3 linked regions of the Homo sapiens genome follow. The protein of the gene in region 3 interacts with the protein of the main gene of each other region in a pairwise test. Each region holds a gene or a part of one and is shown on either strand. Other genes may lie near its edges.

Region 1 (7,661 bases), on a different chromosome or scaffold from region 3:
CAAAGTGCTGGGATTACAGGTGTGAGCCACCGCTCCCAGTCAGCATCCCTGTTTTATAGATGAGCAAGCCAAAGGTCAGAAAGTAAAGTGGCTGTCCCAAGTTCACACACACAACTAGTAAGAAGTGGCACTGGAATTCATACCCAGGTCTGTTTCTCAGGTCTGTGGTTGTCTCTCTACTTTGCCCACTGCCTTGGGAATCATGAGACCTAGTTTTTTGGCCTTTGACTCAGCCACTGGGTGACTGTGGGCCCTAGAATAAGTCATTTAAGTCTATTCTCCAATAGTATTGCCTTTTCTTTCAGCAGTGTTGTAAATATGCACTTGAAGTGTGCTGTTTTTCTTTTCTTTTTTTTTTTTTTTTTGGTAAAAAGACAAACATATAAGGCTGTAGTAGTGTAGTAGTGGTATGTACTATATGCCTCTAGGTGCTTACTTATTTCTTATGATGAAAGCATTTCTGTTAAAATGGGGAGTACCTAAGTGATCATATATTTCATTTATGTAATGGAAGTTGATGGATAGCTAATGGCCCTTCCAGTGTAAAGCGGCCATCATTAAGGTAACATTATCAGAAACAGAATCATTTTTCATGTAATACAGCTTTTAGGGACAGTGTCAACTTATGAGTAAAGCATGCTGTTACAGGTAGGACCCGGATAGTCCAGGCTGAAAGATGTGGTATAAACTTTGATGCATATAATAGATGCATAGCAAATATTTGATGAGTGAATGAATGAATGTAATGAATGTATTCCCTTTTTTTTTGGAGTGCAGTGCTGTGATGATGTCTCACTGCATCCTCTACTGCCTGGGCTCAAGTGATTTTCCCACGTCAGCCTTCTGAGAAGCTGGGACCACAGGTGTGTGCCACCATGCCTGGCTAACTTTTTTTTTTATTTATAGAGATGAGGTTTCCCTGTGTTTCCCAGGCTGGTCTCCTGGAACTCCTGGGTTCAGGGGATCCTCCCATGTCAGCCTCCCAAAGTGTTGAGATTACAGGCATGAGCCATCATGCCCTGCCCGGAATGCATTCTTTAAAAAAAAAAAAAAAGCTTTATTGAGGTATAATTTACATACAATAAAATTCACCAATTTTAAGTGTACAGTTTGACAAATTTTGACACATGTATACAGTTGTATAATTACCACCACTGTGTTTATTTTTTTAAACTGTGTGTTATCTTTTAGGAATTGGGTAGCAGATTTATCCCTGGGAATGTTATGAGGTTTCTATGCTCAGATTCAATACTGTGAGATCAGAATGAATATTAGAGTGTTAATGTGCCAACTTGGGAGGAAATAGGAAAACCTTCGGTATTTAATGGTGAGGTAAATAGGAAGAATAAGGAGAGACATTTATTGGATTAGGGGAAAGATAAATAAATTCAGGAGGAAGTAGATTTTAGTTACTTTTAAGACAGAGGATACATTTTGGGGAAAAAGTTACCAAAAGATTTAAGGAGTTGAACTTTTTATTTTTTTTCTTTTGAAATGGTAGCTCCTGAAATATAAAACTTAACATCTTTGGCTGTGCTTAAGAAGCGCTTAACAAATTATGGTTGTTCAAATAATACTTAAGGGTGGGGATGGTGTAAAGTGGTTGAAGGCCTTGCCCTTCCACCTATGACAGAATATCCTTAGTGTTGATCTCTAACTTGTTTTAAGTAATATTCCACAAAGGGAAGAATACATTAGGTAGCAATTGTGGCTTGCGGGGAAGATTGTTTCTTCCTTTTCATAATTTCTCAAGTCACTGAACTTCTCCCAGTATGCTTTAGCTCAAGTCTCTGTCTCTTAGAAAATGCCTGGAACCTGTGCTAGTGAGCTTCTAGAAGAAGCCCCATTTCTACCTTCTCTTTATTTTTTGATTTTATCTTTATTCATTCTGTTTCTGTATGGTGACTGTGTTTTTTTTTTTTGAGACGGTGTCTCACTGTGTCACCCAGGCTGAAGTGCAGTGGTGTGATCTTGGCTCACTGCAAGCTCCGCCTCCCGGGTTCACGCCATTCTGCCTCAGCCTCCCGAGTAGCTGGGACTACAGGCACCCGCCACCATGCCCGGCTAATTTTTTGTATTTTTAGTAGAGATGGCATTTCACCGCGTTAGCCAGGATGGTCTCGATCTCCTGACCTCGTGATCCGCCCGCTTCGGCCTCCCAAAGTGCTGGGATTAGAGGCGTGAGCCACCGCGCCCAGCCGGTGACTATTTTATAAGCCCTTCTCTCACCCATGGATTTGTCTGAGAATGGAAACTTTTTTTTTTTGCTCTGCCCGAAGCAAAGGAATTCTTGTTAAATCCACCATTGGTCCTCCGTATACCATTAGGAAATAATAATTAAAATAACCCTTTAGATCTACTCAAAGGGGTGACTATAATAGTGTTCCCTCCTTGAGCGGGGGACATGCTAATCTTCTCTGTATTATTCCAGTTTTAGTATTTGTGCTGCAGAAGTGACTACTCTGTTCACCTTTGAAAAAATAATAACTCTATGAGGTAGTCATTATCCTTATTTTATAAATGAGGGAACTGAGCTCAGAGCAGTTAACTGCCAGAGCAAGTGAGGGGCAGACCATTGATTCGAGCTCAGGTATGATTGATGCTCAGGTTTGGGGTCTATGTCATTACACTCTCAGTTGTATGGGAGTGGAGGGTCAAGGGAAGAGCTTGAAAATACCATATTAAAATATGAGCCACAACATGACAAGCATTGCTAACCTTTTTAGGCATTGCTGTTGTCATCTATGACTTTCTTAATTTCTGGAGATTCCTCCTTATGTTCTAAGGAATTGATAGTTAATCCTTTAGTATTGCACAACTTCCTTCCCAGACTCAGCATTTTTTTTTTTTTTTTTTTTAAGAGACGGGATCTCACTCTTTCTCTCGATCTGGAGTATAGTGGCAGTCATAGCTCACAGCAGCCTTGAACTCCTGGGCTTAGGCAGTTCTCCTTCCTCAGCCTCCGATTAGCTGGGACTACAAGTGTGCACCACCATGCCCAGCTAATTAAGAAACATTTTTTTTTTTTTTGTAGAGATAGGGTTTTGCTTTGTTGCCCAGGCTGGTCTTGAACTCCTGGGCTCAAGCGATTCTCCCACCTTGGCCTCCCAGAGTGTTGGGATTACAAGCATGAGTGGCACCTGGCCCCAACATGCTTTTTTTTTTTTTTTTTTTTTGAGAGAGTCTCACCCTGTCACCCAGGCTGGAGTGAAGTGGTGTGATCTCGGCTCATTGCAACTTCCACCTCCCGGGTTCAAACGATTCTTCTCCCTCAGCCTCCCAAGTAGCTGGGAGTACAGGTGCCTGCCACTACACCCAGCTAATTTTTGTATTTTTAGTAGAGACAGGGTTTTACCATGTTGGCCAGGCTGGTCTCGAGCTGCTGACCTCGTGATCCGCCTGCCTCGGCCTCCAAAAGTGCTGGGATTACAGGTGTGAGCCACCGCACCCAGCCTTATTCTTTATTAACATGGTACTTTGTATCACTGGCTGTTTGAATTACTCCTCTGAAAGCTTCTACCCGGGTAATCTTTCATTCAAGACCTGCCGTATTTGCATGTGCCCCTTTATACCGTTTGTTTCTTTATTTTTACAAAAAAATTTAAAAATATGGACTGCTTTATGAATTAGCATGTCATCCTTGTGCAGGGCACATACTAATCTTCCCTGTACCATTCCAATTTTAGTATTTGTGTTGTGGAAGTGAGCACTCTATTCCTGTTTTTATCTGGACAAAATAGTATTTTAAAAATGTATTATGGGCTGGGCTAACATGGTGAAACCCCGTGGCTACTAAAAATACAAAAAATTAGCCAGGCATGGTGGCAGGCACCTGTAGTCCCAGCTACTCGGGAGGCTGAGGCAGGAGAATGGCGAGAACCCAGGAGGCAGAGCTTGCAGTGAGCCGAGATCACGCCACTGCACTCCAGCCTGGGCAACAGAGCGAGACTCCGTCTCAAAAAAAAAAAAAATAAAAGTATATTACGTTATTAAAAACTTTATGATTGAAGTATATAATACATATACAGAAAAATGCATGTAAAAGTGGAATTTGATGTTTTTTTCCCACAAACTGAATATACCCATGTAAGCAGCACCTAGATCTAGATCAAGAAACAGCGTTACCAGTACCTAGAAGCCCCTATCCAGTTCCCTTTCAGTTCCTGTCTCCCCTCTACCACCCAGGGTAATCACCATCCTGACTTCTGACAGCATAGATTATTTTGCTCTTTTTTTGTACTTTTGTAAAAATTGAATCATATAGTATATATTGTTTGTGGTCTGGCTCCTTTTATTTAACACTAATGTGACCGTGCAAAAATTTTTAGTGGTTTTTAGATTTGGAATAAAATTCAAATTTCAGCTTTTTTTTTTTTTTTTTTTTTTTTTTGAGACAGTCTCGTTCTGTCGCCCAGGCTGGAGTGCAGTGGCGCGATCTCAGCTCACTGCAACCTCCACCTCCTGGGTTCAAGCCGTTCTCCGCCTCAGCCTCCCAAGTAGCTGGGATTAAAGGTGCCTACCACCACGCCTGGCTAATTTTCGTGTTTTTAGTAGAGACGGAGTTTCACCATGTTATGTTGGCCAGGCTGGCCATGAACTCCTGACCTCTTGATCCACTCACCTCAGCCTCCCAAGGTGCTGGGATTACAGGCGTGAGCCACTGTGCCTGGCCATTTCAGTTCTTTATTTTGACCTATAATGCCCTGTATAGCCCGTCTCCTGGCTACTTTTCGGGTAGGCAATTGGCATTTTATGCCAATCTCATTGCCCATTATGCCTCTGTTACGCTAACTTCTTATTTTTATTCTTATTTTATTTAATTTTTAGAGATGGGGTCTTACAATATTGCTCAGGCTGGTCTCAAACTCCTGGCCTCAAGCTGTCCTTTGGCCTCCAGAGTAGCTGAGATTACAGGCATGAGCCACTGGCCTTATTTATTTTTAAACTCAGTGAGCTGTTTCCTACCTCAGGGCCTTTGTATGCATGGCTCTGTCTTCCTCGAACACTTCTTTTCCCTGCTCTTTGCATGGCTGCCTTCATGCCTGAGCTTATGTATAAATATCAGGGATACTTTTTCTCATCATCGTGTCTTGCTAGTCCTTTCCCATTATTCCCTATTACTGGCTTCTGTTGCCTCCTTTCATAGCACCTATTGCAATTTATGATTATATATCTGCGTGCATGATTATTATGTCTTCCCTGCTAGATTCCATGAAAGCAGAGAACTCATCTGTTTTGTTCTCCAGTGTATCTCTAGTGCCTAACACAGTGACTGACATAGAGTAGGTATTTAATAAATATTTAATGGCCATATTCCCAATTCAGCACCTTTGGTCCCATTATCTTTTGTCCTTTCCTCTTATGCTGTTTAACTATTTAAATCTTTTCCACCCCTCAAGACTGAGCTCAGTTCTCCCTCTTTGAAGTCTATCATGGTTTTGCAACAGTTAATCTTTCTTCTCTAAAATTTTATAGCATTTATTGCCAGTACCACCTTGTGTTCATGGAAAATCACACTATCACATATCTTATTTTACCTAGTTGTATCAAAAGCTTCTTATTTTCTCAGAAATCTTGTAGCTTGTTATGCCAGTACCCCTCATATTTTTGGTTAACTTGACCAGCTTCTATTAATATCTTAATTAGCTAATTTGACTGGAAGCTTCTCGATCAGAAGCTGTTTTAGCTAATGCCCTCCTCAGTTATTTTCACTGGCACATAGTAGGTCTTTAGTAGAGTTTTTGATGACCAATGATATTTATGTATAGGTAGCAATTTTAATTTCTTAAGCTTATTAACTTGGATTCTTTTTATTAGAATCCTGCTTAGTATTTTCTCTAATCTAAAGGCCGGGAGTGCACCAACTGCTTCCGGCGATATAGAGACTATTAGGGTGTGAAAGTACAGGAGTCCAGTCCTAATGCCACAAAGCAGATTCTCCTTTGGAACTTGTCACTGGTGTAGAATTAACTATGCAGAGTTCCTTCTTAGAAAAAATGCTTTATCAGTGCTTGTTTAATGTTCTCAGATTGGAATTACTAACAGAAACAAGACACTAGGTAGTACTTTATTTGAATTTTCTGTTGACTAACATTTTATTTTGATGTCAACAAAGCAAATCTTGAGCCAATTAAATCTGCTTAAAGCTGCTTTGTCTGATGGGTAAGCTCTCTCAGTAGTTACTCTTCCTCTTGTGTTAAAGGCAGAAGAATGTTCTATAAGCCAATTTAAATGCAAATTTAAATTAGTAGCAACTTAGTTGATTTAACTCAGTACATATTTCAAATTAAGTGGTAAATTTAAATTAGTTTTTAGGAGGTACCTACTGTGTATTTTAAATCAGTGATTATTTTGGCTTTTCTGATGAAACTACATCAGAATATTACAGGGTAATGTAGTAATTGGTTTGTTTTTGTTTTTGTTTTTTGAGACGGAATTTTACCCTTGTTGCCCATGCTGGAGTGCAGTGGCGTGATCTTGGCTCACTGCAACCTCCACCTCTTGGGTTCAAGCGATTCTTCTGTCTCAGCCTCCCGAGTAGCTGGAACTACAGGCGCATGCCACCATGCCCAGCTCATTTTTGTATTTTTAGTAGAGACAGGGGTTTCACCATGTTGGCCAGGCTGGTCTCGAACTCCTGACCTCAAGTAATCCGCCTGCCTTGGCTTCCCAAAGTGTTGGGATTACAGGCATGAGCCACCGCGTCTGGCGTGATACTGATATTATTAGCCATTGGCTATGTGACAGGCACTATCCTAAGCATTTTTCATACATTAGTTTATTTACTCATTCACTCAACAAATATTTATTGAGTACCTATCATGTTTCAAGCTCATAATCTCATGTATTCTTCACCACACCCATGAAGTAAGTATATAGTTTATTATTTTAACCCCATTTTACAGATGAGGAACTGGTACACACAGAAGCTAGATATCCAGTGTCACAAGCTGTTGAGGGTCAGATACTGAGGTTTTTTAAAAGAATGCCAGTTAGTGACATCTTTGGCATGAATTAATTCTATGCTAGATTTTTATCTTTGGGAGGGGAGCAGTAATCAAATTTTTTTTTTTGAGACAGAGTCTCGCTCTGTAGCCCAGGCTGGAGTGCAGTGGTGTGATCTCGGCTCACTGCAAGCTCTGCCTCCCGGGTTCACGCCATTCTCCTGCCTCAGCCTCCCGAGTAGCTGGGACTACAGGTGCCCGCCACCACGCCTGGCTAATTTTTTTGTATTTTTAGTAGAGATGGGGTTTCACCATGTTAGCCAGGATGGTCTCAATCTCCTGACCTCGTGATCCGCCCTCCTCAGCCTCCCAAAGTGCTGGGGTTACAGACCTGAGCCACCGTGCCTGGCCAGTAATCAAATTTTGAAGTCTCTGGTAAACTGTAGTCAAAATGATTAGAACAGAATGTGATAAGCTAAACTGAGATTACTTCTTCTCTTACCCCCAACCCATCTCTTTTTTTTTTTTTTTTTGAGATGGAGTCTTGCTCTGTCAGCTCACTGCAACCTCTGTCTCCCGGGTTCAAGGGCTTCTCCTGCCTCAGCCCCCTGAATAGCTGGGATTACAGGCACCTGCCACCACAGCTGGTGAATTTTTGTATTTTTAGTAGAGACGGTGTTTCACCATGTTGGCCAGGCTAGTCTTGAACTCCTGGCC
Region 2 (7,661 bases), on a different chromosome or scaffold from region 3:
CCTGGGTGACAGAGAAAGACACTGTCTCAAAAAAAAAAAAAAAAAAAAAAAAAAAAGGAAAAGAATGCCAGCCTCTTTTTGCTGTAGTAGTGTTTTAACAAAAAAATCATAATTCACTAACCATCTTTATCTGGTTATATTATGTGGACTAACTCATAATAAACACTACTTAATAAGAATAAAGCTATGGCCAGGCATGGTAGCTTATTCCTGTAATCCCAGCACTTTGGGAGGCCGAGGCAGGTGGATTGCTTGAGCCCAGGAGTTTGAGACCAGTCTGGGCAACATGGTGAACCCCCATCCCGAGTAAAAATACAAAAATTAGCGAAGTATGGTGGCACATGCCTGTAGTCCCAGCTATTTGGGAGGTCGAGACAGGAGGATCGCTTGAGCTCATCAAGTTGAAGCTTCAGTGAGCTGAGATCATGCCACTGCACTCCAGCCTGAGTGACTGAGTGAGACCCTGAAAAAAGAAAAGAAAAGAAAGAAAGAAAGGAAAGAAAGAAGAAAGAAAAAGGCTGTGGTAGTCCTGTTTATCTCATCGGGTGTCTTTTATTCCAGAAATAGTGTTGGTCTTACATCAGAGAGGGCTTGAGTATTTTGCAGATAAATGTGCCCATTGTGACATCTGAGAGGTTTTTCTGGTGTTCTCTTCCCAATAACAGCCATTACAGCAGCAGATCATCAGACTCCACCAAGAGCTTGGGAGACAGAAGTCTCTGTGGGCTGATGTTCATGGAAAACTCCGGAGTCATATAGATGCTTTGAGGGAGCAGAACATGGAGCTCCGAGAAAAGCTGAGAGCTCTGCAGCTGCAGCGGTGGAAAGCCAGGAAGAAATCTGCAGCGTCCCCACACGCGGGGCAAGAATCGCACACTCTGGTACCAAAAGCGCATTTATGTTTTTGTACCGTTTGCGTTATGTAAAAATAGCGTCCCCATAAAGATGTGGGCTTTATTGCTGAATGACGCGGTATCACTCACGCTCCGGGTGGTGGGAGGGGTTGCTATCTTTCCATCAACTCCATTTCCCGTAAGTAATGATTAATAAGAACTGGATACATCAGGCCTCTCACCTGGCACTCCAGCAGACAGAAGCATTGCCGCCCCCAGGCCGTGTGTCTCAAGTCCAGAATTCTAAGACATCTCATGATGTCTCAGGACAACAGCAGCAAACCCTTACTGTGGACTTTACATGGGCTAGGTACGGAGCTTTACGGTCTTACTCTCTATGACGACCCTATGAAATGGATCCTATTACTAACCCCATCGTGGCCACGGGCTGGAGAACGTAGAGCTGGGATTTGAACCCAGGGTGACTCCAGAGCCAGCTCAGTAGCCTGGTGTCCTTCTGTTCATCCTCTAGGACAGCTGTGTAGAATGCAATAGAGACCTGTTGAAACGGGAAAAGTTCCCTTGTCCCCCTCGCAGGGTGTGCGATGGGGGTGTGGCTCGCTTCTTTGGTTCCCCACTGCTCAAACCTCTAGGGGAGTGTACAGACCGGCAGGCTATGGGGCTCTGACCCCACGGCAGTGTCTGGGGGTGAATGTTTCCAGCTGAAGCCCCAGAGGGTGTGTGTTACAGTGCGGGAGCTCTTTCAGTTTACCCCTCCGTAGGCAGCTTGTGTTTATCAGCTCAATTAGACCCTCTGCCTTATCACAAGGACAGAGGGCTTTCTGTATCCTGGGTTCTTGCCTTGGTGTACCTGAAAAATCAGATCACACATGGGCTTGGAGGATGGGTGCAAGGTTTTTTATTGAGTGGTGATACCTGTCAGCAGATGGGGGAGCCAGAAGGGAGATGGAGTGGGAAGGCAGTTTTCCCCTTGGGAGTTGGGCTGCCCAGTGACCGGGCTCTCCCCTGACCACCCCAAGCAAACTCCGTGTCATTCCGCCAGTCGATGGCCTGCTGGCGTCTGCTGTGTCTGCTGGTGTGCTCTTCTGCCGGTGTGTTCTTCTCGACATCCAGCCGCTTGGTCTCTGCCCGCTAGGGTCTTGGGGTTTTTATAGGCATAGGATGGGAGTGTGGCAGGCCACGGTGGTCTTGGGAAATGCAACATTTGGGCACAAAAGCAGAAATGCGTAGGTCCATGGGCACAGGCCCAGGGGTCGAGCCCTAGCCAGGGACCCCGTTCTTCTCCACCCAGGACTTTCCTGCCCCCATCCTGTATCACTAACCTGCTCTATCCCGAACGAAGAACCAGCATTCTCATGCTGAAGTAGTGGGTGCCTCCCAGCACCAGCCTGCCTCTACAGAACACTGAGCTTTCACGTTTGATCACACCGCTCAAAGAACCAGCCTAAGAGAGTGTGAATGTGGCCAGTGTTATCACTGCCTTGTCTGGGTTCTGTTTCCTGCATATGGATCTAAATAACTTGAATCATTAAAATTATACATACAGGTAACAACACATGAAACCACATGAACACCCTCCAAACGTAAGTGGGGATATTTCTTAGTGGATTAAGAAAAGTACTAACATTTCCTAGCTGCATTTATTGTGTGAACTTTTAAATCGGTACTTCCAGGACTTAGAATATTTCCGATACAGCACAGTGATTACAACACACACACACACACACACACACACACACACACACACACAGGCACCCACCGAATACATTCCAGAGGAGACTGCTCTGTGGTTTGTTCTCCAAGCACAGCAAAAACAGCCACAGCTGGGCGCGGTGGCTCACACCTGTAATCCCAGCACTTTGGGAGGCCGAGGCAGGTGGATCGTGAGGTCAGGAGATTGAGACCATCCTGGCTAACACGGTGAAACCCCGTCTCTACTAAAAATACAAAAACATTAGCCAGGTGTGGTGGCGGGTGCCTATAGTCCCAGCTACTCGGGAGGCTGAGGCTGGAGAATGGCCTGAATCAGGGAGGTGGAGCTTGCAGTGAGCCGAGATCGCGCCACTGCACTCCAGCCTGGGGGACAGAGCAAGACTCCGTCTGAAAAAAACAAAACAAACAAACAAAAAAAACTGCCACAAGTTCCTCTACAAGAAATTACGGGAAATCTTGGAAGTTATTCCCACTCTTCGGGAGCTCTGCGAGAGCTTTGTTTCCATGGAGATGGCTTCTGCTGCCTCAGAAAGAAAGTGAGTTTAGCCTCTCAGCACAGCAAAGCGCCGAGTCCTTCTGCGGAAGGAAGAGCAGAAGCTGGGCAGGCTGTTCCTCTGTCAGAGGAAGAGTGGGGGAAATTGCCACAAATACTGGCCGGGATTGTCCACCTTCTGTGGGGAGAACCCAAGAAGACTCACAGGGATTTTTTTCCCTACATATATTGTATGCCAGTTCCTAAAAAATAGTATCTACTGCCCCATTTGGGTCATTGTATAACAATTACCCTAAGAGTCAATGAAGTCTTATTCAGTCTTCACATGCCCTGCAGTTTTGATCATTCTCTTATTTTGAGATTAGAGCTTGGTGAATTTCCAAATATTTTTCCATTCTGTGCATTGCACTGGTCACCGTGGGGCTATTTATAAGAACAGGATGTACGCTCACAAGAGCATACCTGATTTGAAGAAACAGGATGGGATATGTGAATCCCACACTTTAAATATGCGAAGGTGTATCTGTGTGTAGTCGCCGTTTTAGGGACTGAATATCTAAAAGGCTGAGACTCGAGCACCCACAGAACGCGGGCATGGCTGTGTGGGTGAGCCACTCTGGATCTGATATTAAGGGTTCGTTCATAGCAACCCTCTCCCCTTCTCATTCCCTTCTCCTCCTCAGAGGGCAGAACGGTGAATAATTTAGCATTCCAGACCTAATATACCTCATCCCACCTGAAGGATCACCCTGTTCCAGGTCAGTCTGCTGATAACAGGGAAAGTTGGGAATTTGCATTTTGGATCTTAGACAAGTTGTAGAGACAACACTAGAAGTAGTATCACATTTTCTTCCTCCGTTAACACACTCCCGGTTGAAGACACAGGAGCCTAAAGGAAGATATGTTGGGGATTGTTTGTTCTGTAGCCTTTGGGATCCTGTGATCATTTTGAAACAAGGAACCACAATAAGAAACACAAAGCAAACATCGGCTCCACAAAGGTTCCTTCACAAACGCTTGGTGAGGGTTTCTGTTCTTATCAACATATTAGGGGGAAAACCCAGTCCAAGTCCCCCTACCTTGTACCCTATTTTTTTCTAGGACATTCCAATTATTCTTCATTGTATTAAAATTTGAATTTATTTTACCTTCGAAAATGTGAAGAATTTCCCTGCATTTTGTCTTTTAGGCATTGGAACCTGCTTTTGGAAAAATTTCACCTCTGTCAGCTGATGAAGAGACAATACCCAAATACGCTGGCCACAAGAATCAGAGTGCCACTCTCCTGGGACAAAGATCGTCATCTAACAATTCAGCTCCTCCAAAGGTGACCCTTTGTGCTTATCATCTGTAAAGAGAAGCAGAGGTTCTGTACCCAAACACACACATCCCATCAGCTCCTCACCACACAATTTCACCTCCCTGGGTGAGCATGGTGCTCCCTGGAGTCCTGTGTTCTTCCAAGGACACGGGTACATGCCTTTCAAACAAGATCCTAACCCTTAGCACTTCTTGCTGTGGAGCAGATTCCAAGTCCTCCCGGCTGCTTCCCTCTGAGTACACTCACAGCAGCAAGCGTCTGGCTGGGGCCGAGGGGACTTGGGGGCTTTGTTTCCGTGGGTGCAGGCTGCGGAGGTGATGTGTGTGGCACTGTCTCCACCCGTGAGTCTGAGGGCTCGCAGCCTCCCGTGCTCCCTGCTTCTGCACTGCGGTCTTGCACCTGCTGCTTGTCGGCGTGGACTCCTCTGAACAGGGGTGGCGCTGTTAGCTTGGGAGCCACAGTACAGGATGCTATTTTGTCTCTTGTTGGGAATAGGCCCCCAGATCTGGCCATAAACTGGCCCCAAAACTGGCCACAAACAAAATCTCTGCAGCACTGTGACATGTTCGTGATGGCCATGATGCCCACGCTGAAGGTTGTGGGTTTACCAGAATGATGGCAAGGAACACCTGGCCCACCCAGGGTGGAAAACCGCTTAAAGGCGTTCTTAAACCACAAACAGTAGCATGAGCGATCTGTGCCTTAAGGACATGTTTCTGCTGTGGATATCTAGCCAGAGCCCATCCCTTTGTTTTGGCCCATCCCTTTGTTTCCCATAAGGAATACTTTTAGTTAATCTATAATCTATAGAAACAATTTATCACTGGCTTGCTGTCAATAAATATGTGGGTAAATCTCTGTTCACGGCTCTCAGCTCTGAAGGCTGTGAGTGCCCTGATTTCCCACTCCACATGCTATACTTCCGTGCGTATGTCTTTAATTCCTCTAGCACTGCTGGGTTAGGGTCTTCCTGACCGAGCTGGTCTCGGCAGTCTCTATCACATTTTTCTTTGTTAAAATTAGCTCCTCTTTAGAACATTCTCCCAGCCAGTGTGTCTCTTCCTGTCCCAGCTTTGTGTCACCCTCATACTCAGGAAGCAAATCTCGTGAGTCCACAGCCAGCAACTGATACTGGGTTGATGTGGATGGAGAAGGCGCCCCCAACTCCTGAAGATGATTTATCCCCTCGCATTCTTTCCCAAAGCAACTGCTGAGCAGATAACACTTTATTCCCTGAAGGAAGATCAGAAATCTACTCCAAGCATTTGTCACAAGTAGGAAAAGAGCCTTTTCAGATCCTATGAGTACAAAACATCGTAAGTCCCAGGGTGGACTGCACAGGCCCAGCCTCCTGTGAGACGCGGACTTCTCTCATGCTCCATCATTGACCTGAGTTAATCACAGGCATGCGGGGCAATGTACGAGTAAATAGATAACTGAATGGGTGGCTTATCCACGCCTTGAAACCATCAATTGTTAAATAGTGCAAAATGTAGAAAATTATTTTTATTATGCATTTTTGAATTGAGTTTCAAGCACTTTATTTCACTGTTGACTTTACAATATCAGCCATGTATTGGAATCCCAAATTTCACAAGAGCGTGGGCTGTAAAATGGGGAATGAGAGACACTAAGTGTGGATACCTCATGTGTCCTTCTGTAGGAAGGGGGAGTAGAATCATCTACATTCTGTGATAGCTGGTATGATGTGTTGCTTAACATTTAAAAATAATATAATTGTTACTAATGCAAAAATATTCCCACATTTGTTTTCAGCCAATGAGTTTAAAGATAGAAAGAATTAGCTCGTGGAAAACACCACCACAGGAAAATAGAGATAAAAATCTTTCCAGGAGACGTCAAGACAGAAGAGCAACACCTACTGGAAGGCCAACTCCCTGTGCAGAGAGACGGGGGGGTGTCTGAAGATGGAAAGGTGGCCTCGGACACCTGTGTCACTCTACACTGGCCCCTTGGAAAATTCAGATTCAGATAAAGTTCCACTTAGGTCTAATAAAAGTACTCAATTTGTTATTCAAAATAGACCTAGTAATTTATTAAACTAATTATGTTTCTATAGATAAAAACTTGAAGTTCTTCAGACATGTCTCTAATGCTATAAAAGCAAACAACTTGGATTGGGTTTTATAAATCAGTTGCTTTCCTGAGCTCTGTAGTTGGTATATTTCTGCAGAGTCTTTAAAAAAATTAACCCACCTTGTAGTATGGAGTGTCGGGCTGTTGGGTGAGCCCTGGGGTCTTGCTGGAAATCGAGGATGGCTGAAGATGGCTTTGTGCTCCCAGCCTTTGGGCTCAAGGCATTGCCCGCTCCAGGGACCTTGTGACAAGGCGGGCCTGTGACTGTCATTGCCCCAGGCTATGCATCCATCTTCCCGAAGTCTGCAAAACTTGAGTGGCAGAAAATCACCAGTGCAGGCTTCCCAGGCCGCCATGCTGCAGGAGCAGATGGCAGCAGCCGGAGGAGCTGGTGAGCAGAGTTGGGGACTCCTGTTTCTATGCTCCCCGTGAAATGCGGGGCTTTCTCGTGGATACGCGTGAGCAGAACATCTTACTATGGCAAGGACATGTCCTTCCTGGAGCTGCCTAATTTGTGGCCACTTTTTGTCTGATTCCCTCGTTGGGTCCTCACCTGTGAGACTTGCCAACACCCCCAGCCCTCCACCCCACACACAGCCCACATGCCGGTCTCCAGGGGCCGTGACTGGAGATTCCGAATCCTAGCGGTCACTTCCCTCTGAGCACACTCCCAGCAGAAGGCGTGTGGCTGGGGCTAGATGCACTTGGGTGCTTTGTTCCCCTTTCTCCATTTGCCAGCCCATGGCATTGCTGCCACCCTGATGGAGCGCCCTCTCATCTGGCACCTTCCTGGCCTCTTTCCCAGGCCCCAGTTCTGTCCATGCAGCTGTGGGTGCTTCCTGCATTGCGGGTCTCACGGGGAGGAGACGAGAGTGCCCCTGGTTGAGTCAGGAAAGAATTCTATCTTCACGTCGCTGCCAGCAAATGACCACAGCAGCTTCACGACCTCTGCAGGAACCTATCTTGGTAAAGAAACGGGGCCTATGTGGTGGCCGAGCCTCAGGTGTGGCCGAGCTTCAGGTGTGGCCCTTATGCACAGCACAGCCCAAGCCTGTGGGCACCACTCGCCCTGGGCTGCCTGGCACCTGGACTCCTTCCCATCCTTGGCCGAGGTCTGCGTGGCCCTTCAGGGCCGAATCTGACACTGTCTTCCTCCTGAGTCTGCCCCCCGGGCTTCCTGCCC
Region 3 (7,762 bases):
GAGATGAGGTTTCACCATGTTGGCCTGGATGATCTTGATCACTCGACCTTGTGATCCACCCGCCTTGGCCTCCCAAAGCGTTGGGATTGTACCACTGTGCCCGGCCTTGTAAACACTTTTTTAGAGGCAGAGTCTTGCTGTCTCCCAGATGAGTATAGTGGTGCAGTCAGCTCACTGCATCCTCCACCTCCTGGACTCTCCTGCCTCAGCCTGCCAGGTAGCTGGGACTCCAGGCATGTGCCACCATGCCCAGCTAATTTTTATTTATTTTGAGACAGAATTTTGCTTGGCCTGGTTGGTCTCGAACTCCTGACCTCAAGTGATCTGCCCGCCTCGGCCTCCCAAAGTGCTGGGAATTATAGGCGTGAGCCACTGTGCTGACCTAATTTTTACTTTTTTTGTAGTAATGGGGTCTCACTATGTTGCTCAGGCTGGTCTCCTTCCCGGGCTCAAGCGATCCTTCTGCCTCAGCCTCCCAAAGTGCTGGGATTTCAGGTGTGAGCGCCAATAGCTTAGAAAACTATTTGTTTTTCTAAATAGTGCCTAAGATGTGAGGAGGCCTAATCTTGTCAGTGCTGATAAGGTTAACATGATCATTTTCCGCCTTTTACTCTGTCCTCAGGAAGGCAGGTGGGGACTGTGAAGTAGGGCTGTGGGGTTCTCGGCAAAGGCGGGGGCAGCTCTGGCCCTGCATTGTCAAGGCCAAGCCTCAGCTGAGGTTTTGCCCACATGTAGGTATGCCTGAGGTTTGGTTTGGCTGTCGCATTTGAATTGGGGCTGTAACTGACGCTGTTTCCAGCAGTCAGGGTAACGGATTACTGTGTTTCGAGAATCTCACTCTATCGCCCAGGATGGAGTGCAGTGTTGTGATCTTGGCTCACTATAGCCTCTGCCTCCGGATTCAAGTGCTCAAGCAATTCTTGTGCTTCAGCCTCCCGAGTAGCTGGAATTACAGGCGCCTATCACCAGGTCTGTGTAATTTTTGTATATTTAGGTGAGATGGGGTTTCACCATGTTGGCCAGGCTGGTCTCAAGCTCGACCGTAAGAGATCAGCCCGCCTCAGCCTCCCAAAGTGCTGGGGTTACAGGTGTGAGCCACCATACCGGGTCCTATTCTTTTTTAGTAGTGCAAACGTTAAGATGGTATGTGGAAGCTGAATTTTTTTTTTTTTTTGAGACAGTCTTTGCTCTGTCACCCAGGCTGGAGTGCAGTGGCTCAATCTTGGCTCACTGCAAGCTCCGCCTCCCGGGTTCACGCCATTCTCCTGCCTCAGCCTCCCGAGTAGCCGGGACTACAGGCGCCCGCCACCATGCCCGGCTAATTTTTTGTATTTATTAGTAGAGACAGGGTTTCACCGTGTTAGCCAGGATAGTCTCGATCTCCTGACCTCGTGATCCACCCGCCTCGGCCTCCCAAAGTGCTGGGAATTATAGGCGTGAGCCACTGTGCTGACCTAATTTTTACTTTTTTTGTAGTAATGGGGTCTCACTATGTTGCTCAGGCTGGTCTCCTTCCCGGGCTCAAGCGATCCTTCTGCCTCAGCCTCCCAAAGTGCTGGGATTTCAGGTGTGAGCGCCAATAGCTTAGAAAACTATTTGTTTTTCTAAATAGTGCCTAAGATGTGAGGAGGCCTAATCTTGTCAGTGCTGATAAGGTTAACATGATCATTTTCCGCCTTTTACTCTGTCCTCAGGAAGGCAGGTGGGGACTGTGAAGTAGGGCTGTGGGGTTCTCGGCAAAGGCGGGGGCAGCTCTGGCCCTGCATTGTCAAGGCCAAGCCTCAGCTGAGGTTTTGCCCACATGTAGGTATGCCTGAGGTTTGGTTTGGCTGTCGCATTTGAATTGGGGCTGTAACTGACGCTGTTTCCAGCAGTCAGGGTAACGGATTACTGTGTTTCGAGAATCTCACTCTATCGCCCAGGATGGAGTGCAGTGTTGTGATCTTGGCTCACTATAGCCTCTGCCTCCGGATTCAAGTGCTCAAGCAATTCTTGTGCTTCAGCCTCCCGAGTAGCTGGAATTACAGGCGCCTATCACCAGGTCTGTGTAATTTTTGTATATTTAGGTGAGATGGGGTTTCACCATGTTGGCCAGGCTGGTCTCAAGCTCGACCGTAAGAGATCAGCCCGCCTCAGCCTCCCAAAGTGCTGGGGTTACAGGTGTGAGCCACCATACCGGGTCCTATTCTTTTTTAGTAGTGCAAACGTTAAGATGGTATGTGGAAGCTGAATTTTTTTTTTTTTTTGAGACAGTCTTTGCTCTGTCACCCAGGCTGGAGTGCAGTGGCTCAATCTTGGCTCACTGCAAGCTCCGCCTCCCGGGTTCACGCCATTCTCCTGCCTCAGCCTCCCGAGTAGCCGGGACTACAGGCACCCGCCACCATGCCCGGCTAATTTTTTGTATTTATTAGTAGAGACAGGGTTTCACCGTGTTAGCCAGGATGGTCTTGATGTCCTGACTTCGTGATCTGCCCACCGTGGCCTCCCAAAATGCTGGAATTACAGGCGTTAGCCACCATGCCCTGCCACTTTTTTTTCTTTGAGATGGAGTCTCCCTCCGTCACCCAGGCTGTAGTATAGTGGCATGATCTCGGCTCGCTGCAACCTCCACCTCCTGGGTTCAAGCAATTCTCCTGCGCTAGCCTCCCGAGTAGCTGGGATTACAGGCATGTGCCACCAGGCCTGGCTAACTTTTGTATTTTTAGTAGAGACAGGGTTTCACCATGTTGAGCAGGCTGGTCTTGAACTCCTACTTCAAGTGACCTGCCCGCCTTGGCTGCCCAAGCTGTTGGGATTACGGGCGTGAGCCACCACACCTGGCCAACCCATTGTACGTTGAAAATGTAAATAAAAAATATAAAGGCCGGCTTGTGGCTCACGTCTGTAATCGCAGCACTTTGAGAGGCCGAGGCCGGCGGATCACAGATATTGAGACCATCCTGGCCAACATGGTGAAACCCTGCGTCTACTAAAAATACAAAAATCAGCTGGGAGTGGTGGCGTGCACCTGTAGTCCCAGCTACTCGGGAGGCTGAGGCAGGAGAATCGCTTGAACCCAGGAGGCAGAGATTGCAGTGAGCCCAGATCTCACCACTGCGTTCCAGCCTGGACGATAGAAGGAGACTGTCTCAAAAAAAAAAAAAAAAAAAAAAAAAGGCTGGGCAAGGTGGCTCATGCCTGTAATTCCTGCACTTTGGGAGGCCGAGGCGGGCGGATCAGGAGGTCAGGAGATCGAGACCATCCTGGCTAACACGGTGAAACCCTGTCTCTACTAATAAATACAAAAAATTAGCTGGGCGTGGTGACGGGCGCCTGTAGTCCCAGCTATTCGGGAGGCTGAGGCAGGAGAATGGCGTGAACCTGGGAGGTGGAGCTTGCAGTGAGCCGAGATTGTGCCAGTGTACTCCAGCCTGGGTGACAGAGCGAGACTCCGTCTCAAAATAATAATAAAAAATGAATTTAGGCCGGGCGCAATGGCTCACGCCTGTAATCTCAGCACTTTGGAAAGCTGAGGTGCCGGATCACCTGAGCTTAGGAGTTCGAGACCAGCCTGGGCAACATGGTGAAACCCCGTCTCTACTAAAAATACAAAAATTAGCCGGGCGTGGTGATGGGCACCTGTAATCCCAGCTACTTGGGAGGCTGAGGCACGAGAATCGTTTGAACCCGGGAGGTGGAGGTTGCAGTGAGCTGGATACCGCCGCTGCACTCCTGCCTGGGTGACAGAGTGAGACCCTGTCTCAAAAAATAAAATTAAAAAAAAAACAAACCTGATACCTCCCAGTGTTGTCAGTTGGCACATACTATGTCTCAATAAAATGCTTGCTGTTACCCTCTATTTTGAGACGAAGAGGGACCCTGTGTATGACAACCCCAGATTGACCTCATTTGCATTTTAAGTATTTAGAATGTGGGTAACAGTTTTCAGTGGAGGAAACTGCCACATAGGGACTAAAGCAGTCCCAGGGTCCACTCCAGGAGCTGCCAGGCGCGCTCGGCCACAGGTGAGCCATCCATTCGCCCAACCGGTGCTCCAGGAAGGCAGGAAGCGGGATGCAGGGCTTCAGCCTCACTTCTCGCAGCTTCAGCACCTGGGTCAGAGGAGAGGCGGGCGGGGCGATGAAGGGACCGGAAGTCGGCCTTTTTTCCGTCCGCTTGACCAGCGTCGACTGCAGCCAATGAAATCAGGGATGGCGAGTGTTCAGCCAGTGGTGAGGCTGCATCCGGGTGTGGGTGCCGAAAAGGCAGCTGGGGGCGGGACGTCGAGGTGCGGCACGAGCGGCGGGCGCACCGGCCAATAGGCGGCGGGGTTCGTTTCCCGGGGGTGGGCACTGGCGGGTGCGGTGACGTCGGCGCAGGCGCGTCGCGGCGGCAGGGGCGCGGGGCTTCTGGAGGCGGCGGCGGTGGCCAGCGCGGCGGCGCCGGCCGTATTCTCCGGGCTGCGGAGGGTAAAGAGCGGGCTCGGGCCGAGGCTGGAGGGCTGGGTGGGGCCAGAGCGGCGCTTCGGGGGCCCGCGGAGGACGAGGGAGGGAGAGAATCTGAGGAGCTGGTAGGTTTGGGGACCCATCTGGGTGACCGGGCCGGGGAAAGGGCTCGGCCGGGCGTGCGAGGGGCGTAGCGGCCCCAGGGATGCTGGAGCGGAGCCTTAGGGATGGGCAAGGCCTTGGGGGCGGGGGGAGGTTCTGCAAAGGGAGCCACTGGGGTCTGCCTAGGGGCTTGTGCGGAGATTGCGGGCGAGAAGGGGCAGAGGACGGTGGAGGAGACTCAGATGGGGCCCTTTTTGGCGGCCCGTTTTGGGGGGTAGGGGAGACGGCGGTTGGGGGACTTTGATACATGGAGCGTGGAGGAAGAGGTTAATCTTGCGAGGACAGTGGAGGTCAGCGGGGGAGGGAGGCAAAGTGGGCTTTCAGGAGCGTGGAAGGCGTCGTCCGGTTCTTGGAAAATTCAGAATTGGAGGGAGTCAGAGATGGTTGGGGGTGGGCGGGGGTGTTCCATCGATGAGGGTCTTAAGAGACCTGCCGAGGGCAAGGACCAGGAGGGGTTAAGGTAGTAACTTGGGAATTTTGATCGGAATGGCAGCACTTTGGGAGGCCTGGGACGATCGCTTGAGCCTTGGAGTTCCAGGCTGCAGTGAGCCATGATTGCACCACTGCACTCCAGCCAGGGCGACAGAGCGAGACTCCTTCTCAAAAAACAACAACACCAACAACAAAAGAAGTAGACTTGAGAACTTCGTTAAGACATTGGCCAGGGAGTAAGGTAGCCCTGGGATTTGAGGTTGAGGAGAACGTGCAGGAATGGTGGGGGATTTTGGCTGAGCAGGTTGAGAGAAGTCTAGGAGTGAGAGGCAAAAAAAGACGCAGGCAGCGTCGGGGAAATCAGAATTATGTGTCTGGAGAGAGTTTTGCGGGGTGAAGGTGGCCCAGTGGGGCTGTTACCAAACTTTTGAGTGGTTATGGGGCTCTAAGAGGTGACATGACAGGACCCAGCCCAGTAAACACAGCACCTCTTTTTGTCGAGTTTGGAGCTTCAGAGTGGAGAGGTGGGAGGCTTGTGTTTGCTGGACAGGTCTGTCCATTAATCTAGGAGAAAAGGGTGGTGTCTCAGTTCCTCACTTCTGTCTTTCCCTGTCTTCTCCAGGGTTGCCATTAGGGGACTCCTGAGGTCCTATCTCCAGGCTGCGGTGACTGCACTTTCCCTGGAGTGGAAGCTGCTGGAAGGCGGACCGGCCGCCATGTCCACGTTCAGGCAGGAGGACGTGGAGGACCATTATGAGATGGGGGAGGAGCTGGGCAGGTGAGCTGTCTGCCCGCACGGCTGGGCTCCAGGGATAGGAGAGAGGCGCTGTGGGGTTTTCTGAACAGCAGCTCTCCTTTCCTGTTCTTTATCCTGTATGCTGAGAAGGAATGAGTCAGTATCATGCGGTGGGGGAACGAATTTGGGCCGTGGAGTCAGACAGCCCCGGCTGTGAATTCCTGCTTGGGAATCCTCTGTGTGTTTCCTGTGGGGAGAAAAGTAATTGAGCCGTTACAGCAGCCAAGACCGTGCCTGGCATGGGGCACCAGAGCAACAGATGCCAGCTGCTTTTGTTATTAAAAGATGTGTCTTCTGCCTGGGCAACATAGCAAGACTCCATCCCTACAAAAAATAAAAATGAAAAAAAATTAACCAGGTGTGGTAGCTCATGCCTGTAGTCCCAGCTACTAGGGAAGCTGAGACGGGAGGATGGCTTGAGCCCAGGAGTTGGAGGAGGCTGCAGTGAGCTATGATCGTGCCACTGCACTGTAGCCTGGGCAACAGAGTGAAACCCCATTTATTTAAAAAAAAAAAAATCTCCCTGTGTTAATCCTCTTTTGTGGGAGGCACTTTAGTTTTTTTGCCCAGCTCTTGGATGTTTAAAGTGGGGGGAGGGAGGGGCGTGTCTCCCAGCTGGGCCCAAACCTCGGTCAATTGTTTAACATGCTTGTGGGAAAAAGCAGAGGTTTCCTCTTCCAGGGAGGCAGCTGATTTCCTGCCTGTCTGGGCCTTGGAGGGTCCCCCTGGGGCCCCACCCCCTCCAGACTAGCCAGGCACCACTAGGCCCTGCCTCCTTTTGTAGAGCCTCCAGCCTTATTTGGTGAGTTTGCTACTGGCCAGCCTCCCTGGAGCCTCCCCATGATGTCACCAGAAGGGAATGTAAATAAGTGAGCTCTGTGTCAGGCTAGGGAGAGTGCTGCAGGCTCTTTTGGGATCCTGAGGTCCCTCCTTCAGGAATTTCCTCGTTAGTGGCAGAGAAAGCATGCTCCCTCCTCCCCCTTCTCATGCTTCAGTGTTGACCCCTCCTGCTAGGGGTCGTTTGGCAAAAGTCAGCAAAATTCAGCCAAATTTCTTTTAACTCGCCGATTTCACCTCTAGGAATTAATTCATTGGAAAACTGTACATACATGGATGGAATGACTTAAGACTGGGGTAGTTGCTAGAACGTTTACCAGAATAACAGCCTTTTTTTTTTTTCCTTGACACTATCTCATTCTGTCGCCCAGGCTGGAGTGCAGTGATGCGATCTCGACTCATTGCAGCCTCGGCCTCCAGCCTAGCCTCCCGAGTAGCTGGGATTACAGGAGCCCGCCACCACCCCTGGCTAATTTTTGTATTTTTAGTAGAGACAGGATTTCACCATGTTGGCCAGGCTGGTCTCGAACTACTGACCTCAGGTGATTCACCTGCCTCGGCCTCCCAAAGTGCTGGGATCACAGGCGTGAGCCACCGCACCCCGCTGGGAACAGCAGCCTCTTAAATGGCCTTCCCCAAACCACTGCATCAGGGCTGGAATAGGATGCAGCTTGTAAAAAGAACCAGGCAGGGCCAGGTGCGGCGGCTTCCGCCTGTAATTCTAGCGCTTTGGGAGGCCAAGGCGGGAGGATCGCTTGAGCCCAGGACTTCAAGACTAGCCTGGGCAACATAAGTTGACCCCCATCTCTCAAACAAACAGAAATTCATAATTTTAAAAAAAGTATTTAGCCTTCTGTTTTTGCCGTGAAGCCTTGGAGGTCTGGTGTGTATTTCATGTCGCAGTTTTTCTCGGGACTGGCCACACCTCACGGGTTTGACAGCTCTGGGTGGCCAGTGTCTGCTGTTCTGACGGCACTGCTTCAGGTAGTGGTCTGGAACATTCTCAGAGATACATGAAGTGCAAGATGAAGGCCCAGAATGTAGCAATTTTTGTTTGTTTGTTTGAGACGGTGTCTGGCTCTGTTGCCGAGACTGGAGTGCAGTGGTGCCA

What was found.
Region 1: the proteins of DAPK3 (region 3) and LUZP1 interact in binary tests that used the Homo sapiens proteins (3 or more experiments, as listed by UniProt).
Region 2: the proteins of DAPK3 (region 3) and TCP10L interact in binary tests that used the Homo sapiens proteins (3 or more experiments, as listed by UniProt).

The regions. Positions count from the first base shown.
Region 1 is NC_000001.11:23,158,753-23,166,413, reverse strand, and holds part of LUZP1 (leucine zipper protein 1), read left to right. Parts: intron 1-7,661.
Region 2 is NC_000021.9:32,575,420-32,583,080, reverse strand, and holds part of TCP10L (T-complex protein 10A homolog 1), read left to right. Parts: intron 1-665; coding exon 666-881; intron 882-4,249; coding exon 4,250-4,387; intron 4,388-6,157; coding exon 6,158-6,307; 3' UTR 6,308-7,661. Other genes in the region: CFAP298-TCP10L (uncharacterized protein LOC110091775), read left to right, coding at 666-881, 4,250-4,387, 6,158-6,307. UniProt on the Homo sapiens protein: May be involved in transcriptional regulation. Has in vitro transcription inhibition activity. Acts as a tumor suppressor in hepatocellular carcinoma (HCC) cells.
Region 3 is NC_000019.10:3,967,708-3,975,469, reverse strand, and holds the start of DAPK3 (death-associated protein kinase 3), read left to right. Parts: upstream 1-4,370; 5' UTR 4,371-4,549; intron 4,550-5,640; 5' UTR 5,641-5,734; coding exon 5,735-5,796; intron 5,797-7,762. UniProt on the Homo sapiens protein: Serine/threonine kinase which is involved in the regulation of apoptosis, autophagy, transcription, translation and actin cytoskeleton reorganization. Involved in the regulation of smooth muscle contraction.